2 separate regions of the Homo sapiens genome follow, and region 1 is linked to region 2. Evidence: fine-mapped expression QTL. A gene starts in region 2. The other region holds a variant in brackets. All regions are shown on one strand. Distances are from middle to middle.

Region 1 (9,063 bases), 71 kb before region 2:
AGATATAGTATATATATTATATATGCTATATATAAGATAGTATATATATTATATATGCTATATATAAGATATAGTATATTTATATATGCTATATATAAGATATAGTACATTTATATATGCTATATATGATATAGTATATACATTTATATATGCTATATATAAGATATAGTATATACATTTATATATGCTATATAGGATATAGTATATACATTTATATATGCTATATAGGATATAGTATATACATTTATATATGCTATATAGGATATAGTATATACATTTATATATGCTATATATAGGATATAGTACATACATTTATATATGCTATATATAGGATATAGTACATACATTTATATATGCTATATATAGGATATAGTACATACATTTATATATGCTATATATAGGATATAGTACATACATTTATATATGCTATATATAGGATATAGTACATACATTTATATATGCTATATATAGGATATAGTATATACATTTATATATGCTATATATAGGATATAGTATATACATTTATATATGCTATATATAGGATATAGTATATACATTTATATATGCTATATATAAGATGTAGTATATATATGCTATATATATGATATAGTATATATATTTACATATGCTATATATATAAGATATAGTATATATATTTACATATGCTATATATAAGATAGTATATATATTTATATATGCTATATATATGATAGTATATATACTATATATAAGTATATATGCTATATGTAGGATATAGTATATATATTTATATATGCTATATATAAGATGTAGTATATATATGCTATATATAAGATGTAGTATATATATGCTATATATATGATATAGTATATATATTTATATATGCTATATATATGATATAGTATATATATTTACATATGCTATATATAAGATAGTATATATATTTATATATGCTATATATATGATAGTATATATACTATATGTAAGTTATAGTATATATATTTATATATACGATATATGATACAGTATATATACATATGCTATATATAAGACAGTATATATTTATATATGCTATATATAAGACACAGTATATATTTATATATGCTATATATAAGATACAGTATATATTTACATATGCTATATATAAGATACAGTATATATTTACATATGCTATATATGATACAGTATATATTTACATATGCTATATATGATACAGTATATATTTACATATGCTATATATGATACAGTATATATTTACATATGCTATATATGATACAGTACATATTTACATATGCTATATATGATACAGTACATATTTACATATGCTATATATGATACAGTACATATTTACATATGCTATATATAAGATACAGTACATATTTACATATGCTATATAAGATACAGTACATATTTACATATGCTATATAAGATACAGTACATATTTACATATGCTATATAAGATACAGTACATATTTACATATGCTATATAAGATACAGTACATATTTACATATGCTATATAAGATACAGTACATATTTACATATGCTATATAAGATACAGTACATATTTACATATGCTATATAAGATACAGTACATATTTACATATGCTATATAAGATACAGTACATATTTACATATGCTATATAAGATACAGTACATATTTACATATGCTATATAAGATACAGTACATATTTACATATGCTATATAAGATACAGTATATATTTATATATGCTATATAAGATACAGTATATATTTATATATGCTATATAAGATACAGTATATATTTATATATGCTATATAAGATACAGTATATATTTATATATGCTATATAAGATACAGTATATATTTATATATGCTATATAAGATACAGTATATATTTATATATGCTATATAAGATACAGTATATATTTATATATGCTATATAAGATACAGTATATATTTATATATACTATATATAAGATACAGTATATATTTATATATACTATATATAAGATACAGTATATATTTATATATACTATATATAAGATACAGTATATATATTTATTGGTCATTTACAAAAACTTGGATTTAAACATTTGAAAATATATATCCTTCTCAAGCAAACATGAAACAGTTATATTTTAAAAATAAAAGTATATTATATAATATACGGTGGGTGGGCACGGTGGCTCACACCTGTAATCCCAGCACTTTGGAAGGTCAAAGCATGCGGATCACCTGAGGTCAGGAGTTTGAGACCAGCCTGGCTGACATGGTGAAACCCCTTTTCTATTAAAATACAAAAATTAGCGGGGCGTGGTGGCAAACGCCTGTAATCCCAGCTGTTTGGAAGGTTGAGGCAGGGAGAATTGCTTGAACACTGGAGGCAGAGGTTGCAGTGAGCCAAGATTGCACCACTGCACCCCAGCCTAGGAGACAGAGCAAGACTCTGCCTCAATCAATCAATCAATCAATAAAGGGAGAGGGAGAAAGAAAAAGCTATAGATGCTTGCCAAAAATTTAATGGTATATAAGTAAAGAAAGTGGTCTAACCTCTAAGAGAGTAAACACTGTTAACACATTTCTTTTTTTTTTTTGAGATGGAGTCTAGCTCTGTCACCCAGGCTGGAGTACAGTGGTGCAATCTTGACTCACTGCAACCTCTGCCTCCTGGGTTCAAGCGATTCTCATGCCTTAGCCTCCCAAGTAACTGGGATTACAGGCGCCCACCACCATGCCCAGCTAATTTTTGTATTTTTAGTAGAGATGGGGTTTCCCCATATTGGCCAGGCTGGTCTCGAACTCCTGACCTCAGGTGATTCGCCCACCTCGTTCTCCCAAAGTGCTAGGATTACAAGCGTGAGCCACTACGCCCAGCGTGTTAACACATTTCTTTAAGAAATGACCTGGAAGATTTGAAAAGAAATAAAATAGAAGTTTTAAAAATCAAATATTATTGTTCAAATTTTAAAAAAATTGATGATTGAAATAGAAGATTAGATACAACTAAATAAATAATTAGTGAACCTGAAGGTATCCAAAAAGACCCACGTAACAAGGAGATTGAAATACAGTTTGAGTTTCCCTTATCCAAAATGCTTGGAACTAGAAATGTCTCAGATTTCAGATTTTTTCAGATTTCGGAATATTTGCATTATACTTACCAGTTGAACATCCCAAGTCCAAAACTTCAAATTATTCCAATGAGCATTTCCTTTGAGTGTCATGTCAATGCTCAAAAAGTTTCAGATTTTGGAGCAATATGGATTTTAGATTTTTGAATTTTGGATGTTCAACCTATATAAAAATAAGTTAAAATAAATGGAGGATAGAATGATAAGAATTGACATTAATGTTTTGTTTTTTTTTTTTTAGACAGGGTCTCATTCTGTCACCCAGGCTGGCATGCGGTGGCACGATCTTGGCTCACTGCAACCTCTGCCTCCTGTGTTCAAGTGATTCTCCTGCCTCAGCCTCCCGAGTACCTGGGACTACAGGCATGGGCCACCACACTTGGCTAATTTTTGTATTTTTAGTAGAGACGGGGTTTCACCATGTTGCCCAGGTTGGTCTCAAACTCCTGAGCTCAAGTGATCTGTCCACCTCAGCCTCCCAAAGTGCTGGGATTACAGGCCAGAGTCTGTTTTTATCCACTAATCTATACTTCTTCCCCATACTAGCAGTAAACAAAATAGACTTTAAAAAATTTTAAAGCACTTTAGAGACAGAGCAAGTCACTACTAGAACGTTAAATGATTTAGCTTACTAGGAAAGTGTAACAACTTGTATGTACCTAATAAAATAATCTCAAACATCAAAAGCAAAAATTGCTAGAGCAAGACATTTACAAATCTGCTAACGATAGAGGGAGATTGCCACATTCCTTTCTTAGTTACTGATATTTCTAACAGATAGAAATTTTAGACAAATTATAGAAATTTGGGCCAGGCACAGTGGCTCCTGCCTGTAGTCCCAGCACTTTGGGAGACCAAGGATGGGGGAAAGCTTGAGTCCAGGAGTTTGAGACCAGCCTGAGCAACATGACAAAATCTCATCTCTACAAAAAAATACAAAAAAATTTAGCTGGCTGTGATGGTGCGTGCCTGCAGTCCCAGCTGCTCTAGAGGCTGAGGTGGGAGAGTCAATTGAGCCCAGGAGGTTGAGGCTGCAGTGAGCCATGATCACACCACTACACTCCAGCCTGGGCAACACAGTGATACCCTGTATCAGAAAAAAAGAAAAAGAAAAAAAGAAACAGGGAGAAATTAATTAATAAGCTATATTTATTGGTCATTTACAAAAACTTGGATTTAAACATTTGAAAATATATATCCTTCTCAAGCAAACATGAACAGTTATGATAACTGACCAAGCATTACCTTATAAAGTATCTCAATAAATTTCAAGGAACATAATTAATCAAACTGTACTGACACCAATATAATTCAAATAGAAGTTAGAAATTAAAAAATAAAGCCGAGCACTGCGGCACACGCCTGTGATCCCAGCACTTTGGGAGGCCGAGGCAGGCGGATCACCTGAGGTAGGGAGTTTGAGGCCAGCCTGGCCAACATGGTGAAACTCCGTCTCTACTAAAAATACAAAAATCAGCTGGGGGTGGTGGCAC[C/G]CACCTGTAATCCCAGCTAGTCGGGAGGCTGAGGCAGGAGAATCGCTTGAACCCGGGAGGCAGAGGTTGCAGTGAGCCGAGATCGCGCCACTGCACTCCAGCCTGGGCAACAGAGTAAGACTAAAAAAACAGAAATTAAAAAGTGAACTAAAAATCCTCATATGTTTGACATTTATTTTATTTTATTTTACATCATTATTATTTTTTTGAGACAGAGTCTTACTCTGTCACCCAGGCTGGAGTGCAGTGGTGCAATCTCGGCTCACTGCAACATCTGCCTCCCGGGTTCAAGTGATTCTCCTGGCTCAGCCTCCCGAGTAGCTGGGATTACAGGCACATGCCACCATGCCCAGCTAATTTTTTTTTTTTTTTTTTTTTGAGACAGAGTATTGCAGAGGTTGTGGTGAGCCGAGATCACACCACTGCACTCCAGCCTGGGCAACAGAGCAATACTCTGTCTCAAAAAAGAAAAAAGAAACTTAATGTTGGGTGGAAAAAGCAAGTTGCAGAAGACAACATATAGTCAACCATTTTGATAAACTTAAAAAAAAAAACTGGCTGGGCACAGTGGCTCACACCTATAATCCCAGCACTTCGGGAGGCCAAGGTGGGTGGATCACCTGAGGTCAGGAGTTCCAGACAGCCTGGCCAACATGGTGAAACGCCATCTCTACTAAAAATACAAAAAATTACCCGGGTGTGGTGGTAAGCACCTGTAATCCCAACTACTTGGGAGGCTGAGGCAGGAGAATCACTTGAACCCGGAAGGCGGAGGTTGCAGTGAGCCGAGATCGTGCCATTGTACTCCAGCCTGGGCAACAAAGAGAGACTCTGTCTCAAGAAAATAAAATAAAGAAATAAAAACTAAAGACTACATTTTTCAGGATTACATACATACATTTGAAACTATGGAAACAAGATAAAAGAGATATTAAGGATCATTATTAAGCTATGTTTTCTGATCTCAATATAATTATGACAGAAGTAAGAATTAACTCAAAGGGGTAAGCCCAAAATCAAGTATAGCAGTTCCCTAGAGGACAAAGCCAAGAGACAGTAGCAAGTAGAAGTAGCACGAAAATAAATGCAACATTATCAGTGCTGTTCTGGTTCTTAAGGAAAATGGCGCATTCATAAGTGTTCATTTACACTAGAGACTCGGAAAGGTGGATGGGAGGGTGGGAGATAGGTAAGGGATGACAAATTACCTAATGAGTACAATGTACACTATCCCATTGATGGCTACACTAAAAACACAGGCTTCACCACTGTGCAATATATCCATGTAACAAAAGTGCACTTGCACCCCCTAATTATAGTTTTTAAATGTTTATAAGTTTTTTATAAAGTGAGCCAGACGCAGTGGCTCACACTTGTAATCCCAGCACTCTGGGAGGCCAAGGTGGGCAGATCGCTTGAGCCCAAGAGTTTGAGAGCAGCCTAGGCAACATAGTAAGACCTGACTCTACAAAGAATACAAAAAGTTAGCTGGGCGTGGTGGCACGTGCCTGCAGGGTCTGCTACTTGGGAGGCCAAGGAGAGAGAATCATATGAGCCTAGTAAGTCGAGGCTTCAGTAAGCTGTGATCACACCACTGCACTCTAGCCTCAGCAACAAAGTGAGACTCTGTCTCAAAAAAAAAAAAGTGTTCATTTTGTTGTCACCTTTGGACAGTACAGCGGTGGCATTTATAACTTGCACTTATACTACATATATTCTCTTTCTCAAATATTATATAATTTTAAAATATATTAAACAGACACTTGCTCTATTGTTCCAGAGGTTTAATGTTGTCAAATCTGACTTAGTTCTGTCGTAGTACAGAACTCATCACAGATGATTAGGAAGTTTTGGGTCAGATGGTTGCAGGATTTTTCTTTACATTTACAGTTTTTAAAATATTTCAAGATGTGCCCATTTGTAAACAAGCATGTTCTTAGCATTTATTCTAGCAACTTGGTTTGCAAGCCTTTTGGTATGCAATCCAGCAAAAAATTTGAAAGTATCATATTCATGTGTTTTTCCCAAAGGTTTGAGGAAATGCGAACAGTTCTTTCCCTTCCTAAAAGGGCCTAAATGCATATATTTTTCATTCTTGGAGGAGGAAAAGATATGTTCCTAATGATGAATTCCAATTAACTACCACTAACAGTTCCCTTTTGCCCCCTCTCTTTTGGTCTCCACGAAGCCCTGCTCCTACTCTGGAAGAAGTCAACGCCTGGGCTCAGTCATTTGACAAATTAATGGTCACTCCAGCAGGAAGGAATGCATTCCGTGAATTCCTCCGAACAGAATTCAGTGAGGAAAATATGCTCTTCTGGATGGCCTGTGAGGAACTGAAAAAGGAAGCTAATAAAAACATTATTGAAGAGAAAGCAAGGATAATCTATGAAGACTACATTTCTATACTTTCTCCTAAGGAGGTATGTGACCACGAGATGCCTTTTCCCAAGGCTGTTGGTAAAATTAACTTGGTGCAAAAGTAATTGCCATAGGCCGGGCACAGTGGCTCACGTCTGTAATCCCAGCACTTTGGGAGGCTGAGGCGGGCGGATCACCTGAGGTGAGGAGTTGGAGACCAGCCTGACCAACATGGTGAAACCCCGTCTCTACTAAAAATACAAAAATTAGCCTGGTGTGGTCATGGGCGCCTGTAATCCCAGCTACTTGGGAGGCTGAGGCAGGAGAATCGCTTGAACCTAGGAGGCAGAGGATGCAGTGAGCCGAGATTGTGCCATTGCACTCCAGCCTGGGTGACAACAGCAAAACTCCATCTCAAAAAACTAAACAAAAGTAATTGCCTTTTTTTTTTTTTTTTGAGATGGAGTCTCACTCTGTCGCCCAGGCTGGAGTGCAATGGTGCAATCTTGGCTCACTGCAACTTCTGCCTCCCGGGTTCAAGCAATTCTCCTGCCTCAGCCTCCAGAGTAGCTGGGATTATAGGTGCGCACCACCAGGCCTGGCTAATTTTTGTATTTTTAGTAGAGACAGGGTTTCACCATGTTGGCCAGGATGGTCTTGATCTCTTGACCTCGTGATCCACCTGCCTTAGCCTCCCAAAGTGCTGGGATTACAGGCGTGAGCCACCGTGCCCGGCCTCGCCATTACTTTTAACTTTTTCCAGAAAAATGCACAAAATTTTTCACCAATTTCAGAGGACATTTGGAGCCGCTCTGCAGGTCCACAGTCAAAGGGATCTGAATACCGTGAATGCGGGTGCAGCTGTTTTCTACATTTTGCAGTTGATGTTCTGGGTCAAGCTGAACATGACCAAACAGCTGCACCCACATTCACGGTTTTCAGATCACTTTGACTGTGGACTTGCAGAGGGCTCCAAGTGTCCTCTGAAATCTGTGAAAAATTTTGTGCATTTTTCTGGAAAAAGTATCCCCTGGAGTCTCCATTTGACACTGAACACTGTTTACAAATATTATACCCTAAGACGTTCCTTTAAATAAAATTATCTTGTTATTCTGAGAAAAATCTTGTATTTAGGTATCTTGATGTTATAGAGCAGCAGCATCACAGATGTGATACTGATGCTGAAAAGGTTTTCCCCAGGCTGGCTTTTTCATTCAAGAAATTATCAGATGAATGAGATTGGGCAAGTTTCCACCTGTCAGTGTTTCAGTTTCTTCAAATCTAAAATGTAGGAGGCCAGCCCTGGCACAGTGGCCAACTTCTGTAATCGCAGCATTTTGGCAGGCCGAGGCAGGTGGATCACCTGAGGTCAGGAGTTCGAGACCAGCCTGGCCAACATGGTGAAACCCCATCTCTACTAAAAATACAAAAAATTAGCCAGGTGTGGTAGCATTCATCTGTAATCCCAGCTACTCAGGAGACTGAGGCAGGAGAATCACTTCAACCCGGGAGGCGGAGGTTGCAGTGAGTAGAGATTGCGTCATTGCACTCCAGCCTGGGCAACAAGAGCAAAACTCCATTTCAAAAAAATAATAATAATAAAATAAAATTTAGGAGGTCAGATTGTTCTCAAATTGGGTGCCTTGTAGCTCTAATTATAAAACTATTAGTTATTTCCTACTATGTGCCGACAGGAATGTCAAGTTGAAGAAGCAGGGCCTCTCCTGTCATGGAGCTCCTGGAGATGTGGGCGGACAGACCAGGACCCCTGGCCACACTCTCAGCACTCACTGGGGCTCGGGGGTGAGCCATCCACAAAGGGGTGGGCGAGAATGAGAAAAATACTCAAGGAGGCTACAGATGGACCAAGGATAGTGAAAAGGAAATTTCCACAAACACAGCAGGATGGGGACATCCCAGGAGACAGGACCAGGCGAGCCCAGGGGAAGAGCATGAAGTTGTGTGATCACTGCAAGTATACACAGATTGTGCCAGAAAGGGAGGGTGCTTACCAAACTATTAGGGCTGGGGGCAGGCAGCAGGAGGAGACTTAGAGAAGGGGTAGTCGGAGAGCATGGAGAGGTTTGGGCATCATGGCGAAGTGTCTGGATTTTTATC
Region 2 (9,063 bases):
CTACCCACAAAATCTCTCCATGAACTTCAAAACTTTATGTCCTTGCCTCACTCCTCCTTCTATAATCTAAATGAATCCTTTACAAAGAAAGGCAACCTCAGATTGTTTTTTAGGCCTTATTACATCCTTTAGGCCCACAATCCTACACTAGAAGCATTTTATATTCACTTAATCCTTACTAAATTATCTCCAGTTTACCATGACGAGAAACATTTTAGTGATGACAAAGAACTTGCCTAAAATCACACAGCTAAAGTTCAGAAAAGTTCAGAAAAGCCAGGATTTGAACCCACATTAGCAGTCAGACTTGGTTACTGACACCGAATCAAAGTGACAAGAAAACAGCTTAAGCAGAAAACAGCTAATACCTAAAAATTTCGAACTACTTTCTGTGGTTCACTGTGGCTTGGTCATGTGCACTTGAGATCAAGTACACATGTGGGACAACATCTTGGGTAGAACTAGGGTCAGGATATTGATCTAGGTAACTAGGGAAACACACCTGCCCCAAAACAGCAAGTTCATACTCTTACTTCCTGATTTTGTATTCACTTAATTGTATCCATGCATGGTTCAAGAGCAGATGCAAGGGTCTTCTAGAGAGACACTGTAGCTTAAGAGAGGAGTACTAGCTTTGGAGCAAAACAGATTTAGATTCACATCTTCACTTGGCCATTCACTAGCTATTTGGCTTAAGACTATTCTAAATACTTAGCATCCTCATTTTCAGAATGAGGATAATACTCATCTTGCAAAGTTGCCTGAGGAATAAATGGGATAAGGTGGGTAAGTATTTAGCAGAATACCTGGCTCAGAGTAATAGCTCAATAAATGGTAAGCTGTTTTTAGTTAAGTGTGACACCTATGGTTTTAGTAAAACAAAATTATTCAGGTAAAGCAGCAGCATGTTAAAATATTTTTTTAAATGATATCTAAATTTGCACTTAAATTTGTCAATTCTGATGACAACTATTACTCTTCAAAGTTAACTTTTTCAGGCTGGGCGCAGTGGCTCACATCTGTAATCCCAGCACTCTGGGAGGCCAGGACGGGCAGATCACCTGAGATCAGGAGTTCAAGACCAGCCTGGCCAATACGTTGAAATCCCATCTCTACTAAAAATACGAAAATTAGCCAGGCATGGTGGTGCACACCTGTAGTCCCAGCTTCTAGGGAGGCTGAGGCAAGAGAATCGCTTGAACTGGGGAGGCGGAGGTTGCAGTGAGCCGAGATTGCACCACTGCACTCTAGCCTGGGTAACAGAGTGACACTGTCTCAAAAAAAAAAAAAAAAAGTTAACTTTTTCATAATATAAAACATTAAAAAAGCTGAGAGAAAAATCTGAAAACTACCGAAAAAAAGAGAAACACATATACCATAATTCTACAACCCCTAAAACACATTTTGTTGAATTACTGAACACTTAAAAAGCCATCTGTAGGCTGATGATGCAGTTGGGGAAAAGAGGAGTGTCATTCTGACCATTTCTCTTTCTCTGTATTTCATCAGCCTGTTTGAATTTCCAGAGGACAGGCAGGGAAAATGCTGGGGAAAACAAAAGTACAAGAGCCAGTCAGTTTTACCTTTCTTTTTGGGAGGCAAGTTTTCATACTGGAAAAGTTTTGAACTACCTGAAAACTTAGATTTGAGAAGAAAACTTAGATTTGAGGATTATTTGTGGAGTTTATTCTCATTCTCTTCCAGACTCATTACAAAAGATCTGAAAATTTGTTGACGATTTGAGAACTGCAGATAAATATGAATTTATCTTCTCCACACCTGCCCACTAAAAAATTACTTAGAAACATTATTACAAGGAAAGAAACAAAATCAAGCAAACATCTAATGCATTAGATGATTAAAGGATACATATTACAGCCTAAGTTGGAGAGAACATTACCCAACAAATGGCTTTTTTTCCCTGGGAGCTTCTACTGTGCAAGTCTGGGGATCTCCAGACCAGAGAAAAATCTTCCAGTTTAAACAAAATAACGAAAATGTTCCAATAACCAGATAACCTATCAAATAACCAGAATTTGAAGTGGGAAATGAAGGGCCATATCAATGGGGAGGAAAAATGGCACTGGTAATATCTAGAACAGAAAATAAACAGGAAATACTTTAAAAGGCCAAAATTTGCAAATACAGATTAACAGGGTATGAAATGAAATACGAGGCAATGCACCTGTTAAAGGAAAAAGGGGAACAGAGGATGTTTGAAGTCTTACGTATTTAGTGTTAACACTAATTCCTGATCTAGCTGTCATGTGGAAAGCATGCTGTCCAGAAGAAAACCTGGGTCCTGGCTTATTCCAAACTACACAGTACTTAATTTAAGTAGTAGTACTTAATCTCTCTCAGTGTCTTAATCTGTAAAATGGATACCCTTTATGTACTCACAGCTCTGTGTGAGTCACAAAAGAATTTTGAGCAGATGCTTTTTAACTCCAAAGTGCTGTACAAATCAGAGCATCCCTTTTCTCTTCACATTAGTTTGACATGGAATTTACTTCATAGATGGAAGAAAAATTATTTCAGGTACACTGATGATGAAAATGTGCCGAACGTGGTTAAACAAATTTAGGTGAGGACAATTATATAAGTTTACCTGAGAGGCCAGGCGCAGTGGCCTCACGCCTGTAATCCCAGCACTTTGGGAGGCTGAGGTGGGCGGATCACCTGAGGTCAGGAGTTCGAGACCAGCCTGGTTAAGATGGTGAAACCCCGTTTCTACTAAAAATACAAAAAAATAGCCAGGCGTGGTGGCGCACGTCTGTAATCCCAGCTACTCGGGAGGCTGAGGCAGGAGAATCACTTGAACCCGAGAGGCGGAGGTTGCAGTGAGCCGAGATCAAGCCATTGCACTCCAGCTTGTGCAACAAGAGTTAAACTCCGTCTCGAAAAAATATGTTTAGCTAAGAACAGATGAGTCTGAAGCAAGGGACTGAAAGTGCCACACAAATGGGCAAGCTGTAGAAACTGGTCGTATGAGGATTTCTTACAAACCACAAAAGCATATGCTTACATGAATATTCATCAATAACAAAAAAAATGCCACCAGTATTAACTGTAAACCACTTAGAAAATACCCAACAATATAATTTGTCCAAATCCCTCTACCAGCATTCCGGTGAGTGTGCGTGCTGTAGTCCTAACTCTTCTGTACATTACGACAGGACAAAACCCGCTTTTTATAAAACGTTTAGCAACTCGCCAAGAAACTGGCACACTTTACCTTTTTAATCGCTAAGCAAACATGTAGCACAGTTGAGATAACCAGGCGGACGTTCAGCCCTCTTCAAAAATAAGACACAGAAGTTTTACATTTTACCAGCCCGATGTCTAATACCGATCACAAGCCTCTATTTGATGCTCTTTCTAGATGTTGGCCACGGATCACGGAAGACTCCATTCTTTCAAGTTCTGAGGACTTTCTACGCTTCAATTCCTAAGCTAAATTGCCAAGGTTTTACTAGCACGAAAGTTTAAAGTCAACGGAGAGCGTGCCCTAATCCCTAAATCGATTAGGTTTATTACACGGCACCAGCGAGCAGGGACTGGAAATACAAGAGCGAGCGGGTCCTAACGCAGGTTGCCGCGGGACCCGACGCCCCGGGCCCGGACACCCTCCCCGGGGACGCGGGCGCGGCGGGCCCGGCTCCCAGACGGGAGGCTGCAGGGGGAGGGGAGGGAGAAGGAGGGAGGGGGCGGCCCCCTCGGGCCGGACCGCGGCCCGGCCTCCCTCCCGGCCCGCGCCGCTCGCCGCGCTCACCGCGTTCTTCTTCTGCACCATCTTGTCCATCTTCTTGGCAAAGCGGACCACTTCGTCCTCCATGGCTCCGGCAGGTCTTCTCCGCGCCCACCCCGCTGGCAAGGGGAAGTGGGCGAAGCTGGAGCGGAAGACACAGCAGGAGCGACCCCCGGCGCGCAGCAACCCCCACCACCGCAGGCCCGGGCCTAGGCCCCCTTCCTTACGAACGAAGCCCGCGGCGGCGGCGGCGGCGGCGGCGGCTCCGGCTCCTCCTCCCCAGGCAGCGACAATCGAACACCGCGCGCGACGTGCAGGCGCTACCAACTGACTGCAGATCGCTGGTGAGGGGCGAGCCCATGTTCCCGCCAGGCGGGCGTCGGGCTAGTGGGCAGGCGTGGCTTCCGGCTAGAGGGTCGTGGAAGGCGCCCGGTTTTGCTGCGCGTTCACCTCCGGTCCCGCCCCCTCACGGGGCGGGTTTTCGGCCCCCTATTGCATCGGGACATCCCGGAGTTTTAGAACTCGCGGAGGCCCAAGTATCTCGAAACGGGGGCAGATTCCGAGCATGGAACTTTGGCAGGTTTTAAAGTCTGTGGGAAGCCAAGCACTTTCTCCATAGGAGACTGCTACGGGGAAAAATGGAACCCGTGTCCTCTAAGTTAGGTTACGGAGTTACTCGTTTTAAGAGTTCCTTTTTTTTTGAGACGGAGCCTCGTTCTGTCGCCTGGCTGGAGTACAGTGGCGCGATCTCCACTCACTGCAAGCTCCCCCCCCCGGGTTCAAGCGATTCTCCTGCTTTAGTTTCCCGAGTAGCTGGGACTACAGGCGCCCGCCACCACGCCCTGCTAATTTTTTGTATTTTTAGTAGAGACAGGGTTTCACCATGTTGGCCAGGATGGTTTTGATCTCTTGACCTAGTGATCCGCCCGCCTCGGCCTCCCAAAGTGCTGCGATTACAGACCTGAGCCACTGCACCCGGCTAAGCGTTCCTTTTTTTAAAAAAAATCGGCCGGGCGCGGTGGCTCATGCCTGTAATCCCAGCACTTTGGGAGGCCGAGGCGGGCGGATCAACTGAGGTGAGGAGTTCGAGACCAGCCTGACCAACATGGAGAAACATCGTCACTACTAAAAATACAAAATTAGCCGGGCGTCATGGCCTGTGATCCCAGCCACTCGGGAGGCTGAGGCAGGAGAATCGTTTGAACCCGGGAGGCGGAAGTTGCGGTGAGCCGAGACTGCCATTGCATTCTAGCCTGGGCGACAAGAGCGAAACTCCGTCTCAAAAAAAATAAAAAATAAATAAAGGTGAAATCGTTCGTGAGCTCCTGGAGTACTAAGAACCAGTCTTGGGCATGGCATTTTGAATAGTTGAAGAACAGTTGACGGAAACCTTCTGGTCAGAAATTACACAAGGCATCCCACCAGCTTCTGAGGATCAGAGAGGAAGGTGACTTAAGTTGTGACAGGGTTCATAGTGGAGAATGCAGGCTCCTCCAAAAAGTCTTTCCCCACTTAAACCCTTCACGACCAACTCATGCTATTTGCAGGTATAACTCCCACACCACGTAACTATCATTCATCAAAATACACCGCCTAATAATGTTCTTTCTATACTGAGATGACAGGTTTTTCCTGGTTATGACTCACTCATTTGGGGGAGAAGTATTGGGATCGTTTCCCTATTTTGTTTCATTTTTAAATTATCTTTTTATTATTGATTTCCAGCTTAAATTGTAGTATTTGTTGAGATTTATTTTGTCAATTTTTTTTTTTTTTTGACACGGAGTTTTGCTCTTATTGACCAGGCTGGAGTGCAGTGGTGCCATCTCGGCTGGCTCACTGCAACCTCCACCTCCCAGGTTCAAGCGATTTTCCTGCCTCAGTCTCCTGAGTAGCTGGGACTACAGGCGCCCACCAGCACACCCGGCTAATTTTTTGTGTTTTTAGTAGAGACAAAGTTTCACCATGTTGGCCAGGCCGATCTCGAACTCCTGGCCTCAGGTGATCCGCCCACCTCGGCCTTCCAAAGTGCTGGGATTACAGGCGTGAGCCACTGCGCCCGGCCTATCTCGTCAATTTTTATGCATATCTATGTGTTCTAAAAAAGAACACACAGAAAAAAATTGTTTTCTACAGAAAATGTTGCAATATTTACATCCCTGTTTGCTGTCTGCTTCATGCCTCAATTAATGAGTATGTAAAAATTTCCCTTTATAATGTGGATTTGTACATTTATTGTAATAATTCTGTCATTTTTCTTTTTTCCCAAAGAATCAGTTGATGTTTTTCTTTAAAATACACATAACACAAAATTTATCCATTTAACTACTTTTCTTCTTTTTTCATGCTACCTTGTCTAAGACCATTTTTAACTATTTTTTTAGATTTTAATTCATTTTATTTTATTTTTTATTTTTTTTTAGACGGAGTCTCGGCCTATCACCCAGGCTGGAGTGCAGTGGCGTGATCTCGGCTCACTGCAACCTTTGCCTCCCAGGTTCAGGCAATTCTCCTGCCTCAGCCTCCCAAGTAGCTAGGATTACAGGTGCCCACCACCACGCCCTGGTAATTTTTGTATTTTTAGTAGAGATGGGATTTTACTATGTTAGGCAGGGTGTTCTCAAACTCCTGACTTCAGGTGATCTGCCCACCTCGGCCTCCCAAAGTGCTGGGATTGCAGGTGTGAGCCACCTCACCTGGCCTGTTTTAGCTATTTTAAAGTGTAAAGGCCTGGTGTGTGCATACCCAGTGTGCATGGGATACAGCAAAGGCAACACTCAGATGGAAATGTATAGCTGTAGATACCTATGTTTAAACATAAAGATCTCTGGCTGGGCGCAGTGGCTCACACCTGTAATCCCAACACTTTGGGAGGCCAAGGTGGGCGGATCACCTGAAGTCAGGAGTTCGAGAACAGCCTGGCCAACATAGTGAAACCCCGTCTCTACTAAAAATACAAAAATTAGCTGGTCCTGGTGGTGGCCGCCTGTGATCCCAGCTACTCGGGAGGCTGAGGCAGGAGAATCGCTTAAACCCAGGAGGTAGAGGTTGCAGTGAGCTGAGATGGCGCCACTGCACTCCAGCCTGGGTGACAGAGCAAGGTTCCGTCTCAAACATAAATAAATAAGTAAATATAAAATAAAAAAGTGTACAATTCAGTGGCATTTCTAATGATAACAATATAGTGCCACCATCACCACTCGATAGTTCCCAAAAGTTTTCCAAAAATGTTCATCACCTCAAAAAGAAACCCAGTATCAATTAAGCAGTCACTCCTGATTCCTTTCTCCCCTCAACCCTTGGCAACCACTAATTGGCTGCCTCTATACTCTTGAATATTCTGAACATTTTATATATTTAATAAATAGAATCCTAGAATATGTGACCTTTTCTGACTGGCTTCTTTCACTTAGCATGTTTTCAAGGTTCACCTGTGTTGTAGCCGTGTCAGTACTTCATTCCTTTTTATGGCTGAATAATATGCATTTCCTATAGATAACATTTTTAAAATTCATTCATCACATGATGGACATAAGCATTGTTTCCACCCACCTTTCACTACTCCACATTTTCACTCTTGTGAATAGTGCAGCTATGAACATGCCTGTACAAAGTTTTGTGGGAACACCTGTTTTCAGTTCTTTTGGGTGTGAACCTAGGAGTAGAATTGTTGGGTTTCATGGTAATTCTACATTTAAATTCGAGGAACTGTCCATCTGTTTTCCACAGCAACTGCAACATTTTTACATACCCATCGGAAACGTCATTGGGCTCGAACTTCTCTGTATCTTTGTCAACAATTGTTGTTGTCCTTTATTTTTATTTTTATTATTTCTTTTTTGATACAGTGTTTCGCTCTTATTGCCCAGGCTGGAGTGCAATAGCGTGACCTCAGCTCACTGGAACCTCGACCTCCCAGATTCAAGTGATTCTCCTGCCTCAGCCTCCGGAGTAGCTGGGATTACAGGTGCCTGCCACCATGCCTAGCGAATGGTTTGTATTTTTAGTAGAGACTGGGTTTCACCATGTTGGCCAGACTGGTCTTGAACTCCTGACCTCAGGTGATCTGCCCACCTTGGCCTCCCAAAGTGCTGAGATTACAGGAGTGACACACTGTGCCCAGCCTGTTTAGTTCATTTTTAGAATTCTAATTATCTGATGAGGTATGAAATGGTATCTCATTGTGTCTTTGATTGGCATTTTCCTAATATGTTAAGCATGTTTTCATGTGCTTGTTGGCCATTTCTGTGGTTTCTTTTTTTTTTTTTTTTGAGATGGGGTCTCACTAACAGAGTGACAACAGTCCAGGCTGGATTACAGTGGCACAATCTCAGCTCACTGTAGCCTCCACCTCCCGGATTCAAGCAATTCTCCCACCTCAGCCTCCTAAGTAGCTGGGATTCCTGGGGAGCACCAACACCCCCGGCTAATTTTCGCACTTTTAGCAGAGATGGGGCTTCACCATGTTGGCCAGGCTGGTCTGGAACTCCTGACCTCAGGTGATCCACCCACGTCGGCCTCTCAAAGTGCTGGGATTACAAGTATGAGCCACCTCCCCCGGCCTTCTATGGTTTCTTTAGAGAAATGTCTATTCTAGTCTTTTGCCCAATTTTTAACTGAGTTGTGTTTATGTTGTTAAGTTGTAAACGTTCTTATATAATTCTGGACTCTAGAGCCTTGAGATAAATATGCTTTTCAATCATTGTCTCCCTTCCCATTTTGTGGGTTATCTTTTCAGTCTTTTTTTTTTTTTTTTTTTGAGACAGGGTCTCACAGTCGCCCAAGCTGAGTCCTGTGGCGTGATCACAGCTCATTGCAGCCTCCACTTTTTGGGTTCAAGCAAATCTCTTGCCTCTGCCTCCTGAGTAGCTGGGACTACAGGCACACACCACCATGCCCAGCTACTTCTGGATTATTTGTAGAGAGAGGGTCTTACTATGTTGCCCCGGCTGGTCTCAAACTCCTGAACTCAAGCAATCCTCTCGCCTCGGCCTTCCAAAGTGCTGGGATTCCAGATGTAGGCCACCTCGCCCAGCCTCTTTTCAGTCTCTTGATATTGACCTTTCATGCACAAACTTTATATTTTACCAAAGTCCAATTCATATATTGCTTTTGTTACTTGTGCTTTTGGTGTCAAATCTCAGAAAGAGTTGCAAATCCAAGGTCATGAAGATTGACCATTGCCATTTTAACAACATTAAGTCTATCAATTCATTACAACGGGATATCTTTCCATTTATTTAGATCTATTTTAATTTCTTTAAGCAATATAACATAATTTTCAGTGTGCAACTCTTGGCTAAATTCACCTCATT

What was found. PIP is the estimated chance that this variant, and not a neighbour inherited with it, causes the effect.
Region 1: its variant is fine-mapped to the expression of TCEA1 in whole blood (TOPMed, PIP above 0.99).

What each region holds. Positions count from the first base shown.
Region 1 is chr8:53,947,304-53,956,366 of GRCh38, forward strand. RGS20 (regulator of G protein signaling 20) reads left to right here. Exons shown (of 5, transcript NM_003702.5): 4 at 6,773-7,007. Among named protein-coding and RNA genes, the nearest start is that of TCEA1, 71 kb to the right of the region's middle. The variant C/G (reference allele first, on the strand shown) is at 4,585.
Region 2 is chr8:54,018,291-54,027,353 of GRCh38, forward strand. TCEA1 (transcription elongation factor A1) reads right to left here and starts at 4,158. Exons shown (of 10, transcript NM_006756.4): 1 at 3,773-4,158. The coding sequence starts at 3,835. All of the region lies in intron 12 of LYPLA1-TCEA1 (LYPLA1-TCEA1 readthrough), which reads right to left. It overlaps LOC133039971 (Uncharacterized LOC133039971), which reads left to right and starts at 3,743. Exons shown (of 3, transcript NR_189620.1): 1 at 3,743-4,092. RefSeq lists silencers at 3,607-3,776, 4,904-5,211 and enhancers at 3,897-4,690, 3,947-4,096, 4,691-5,482.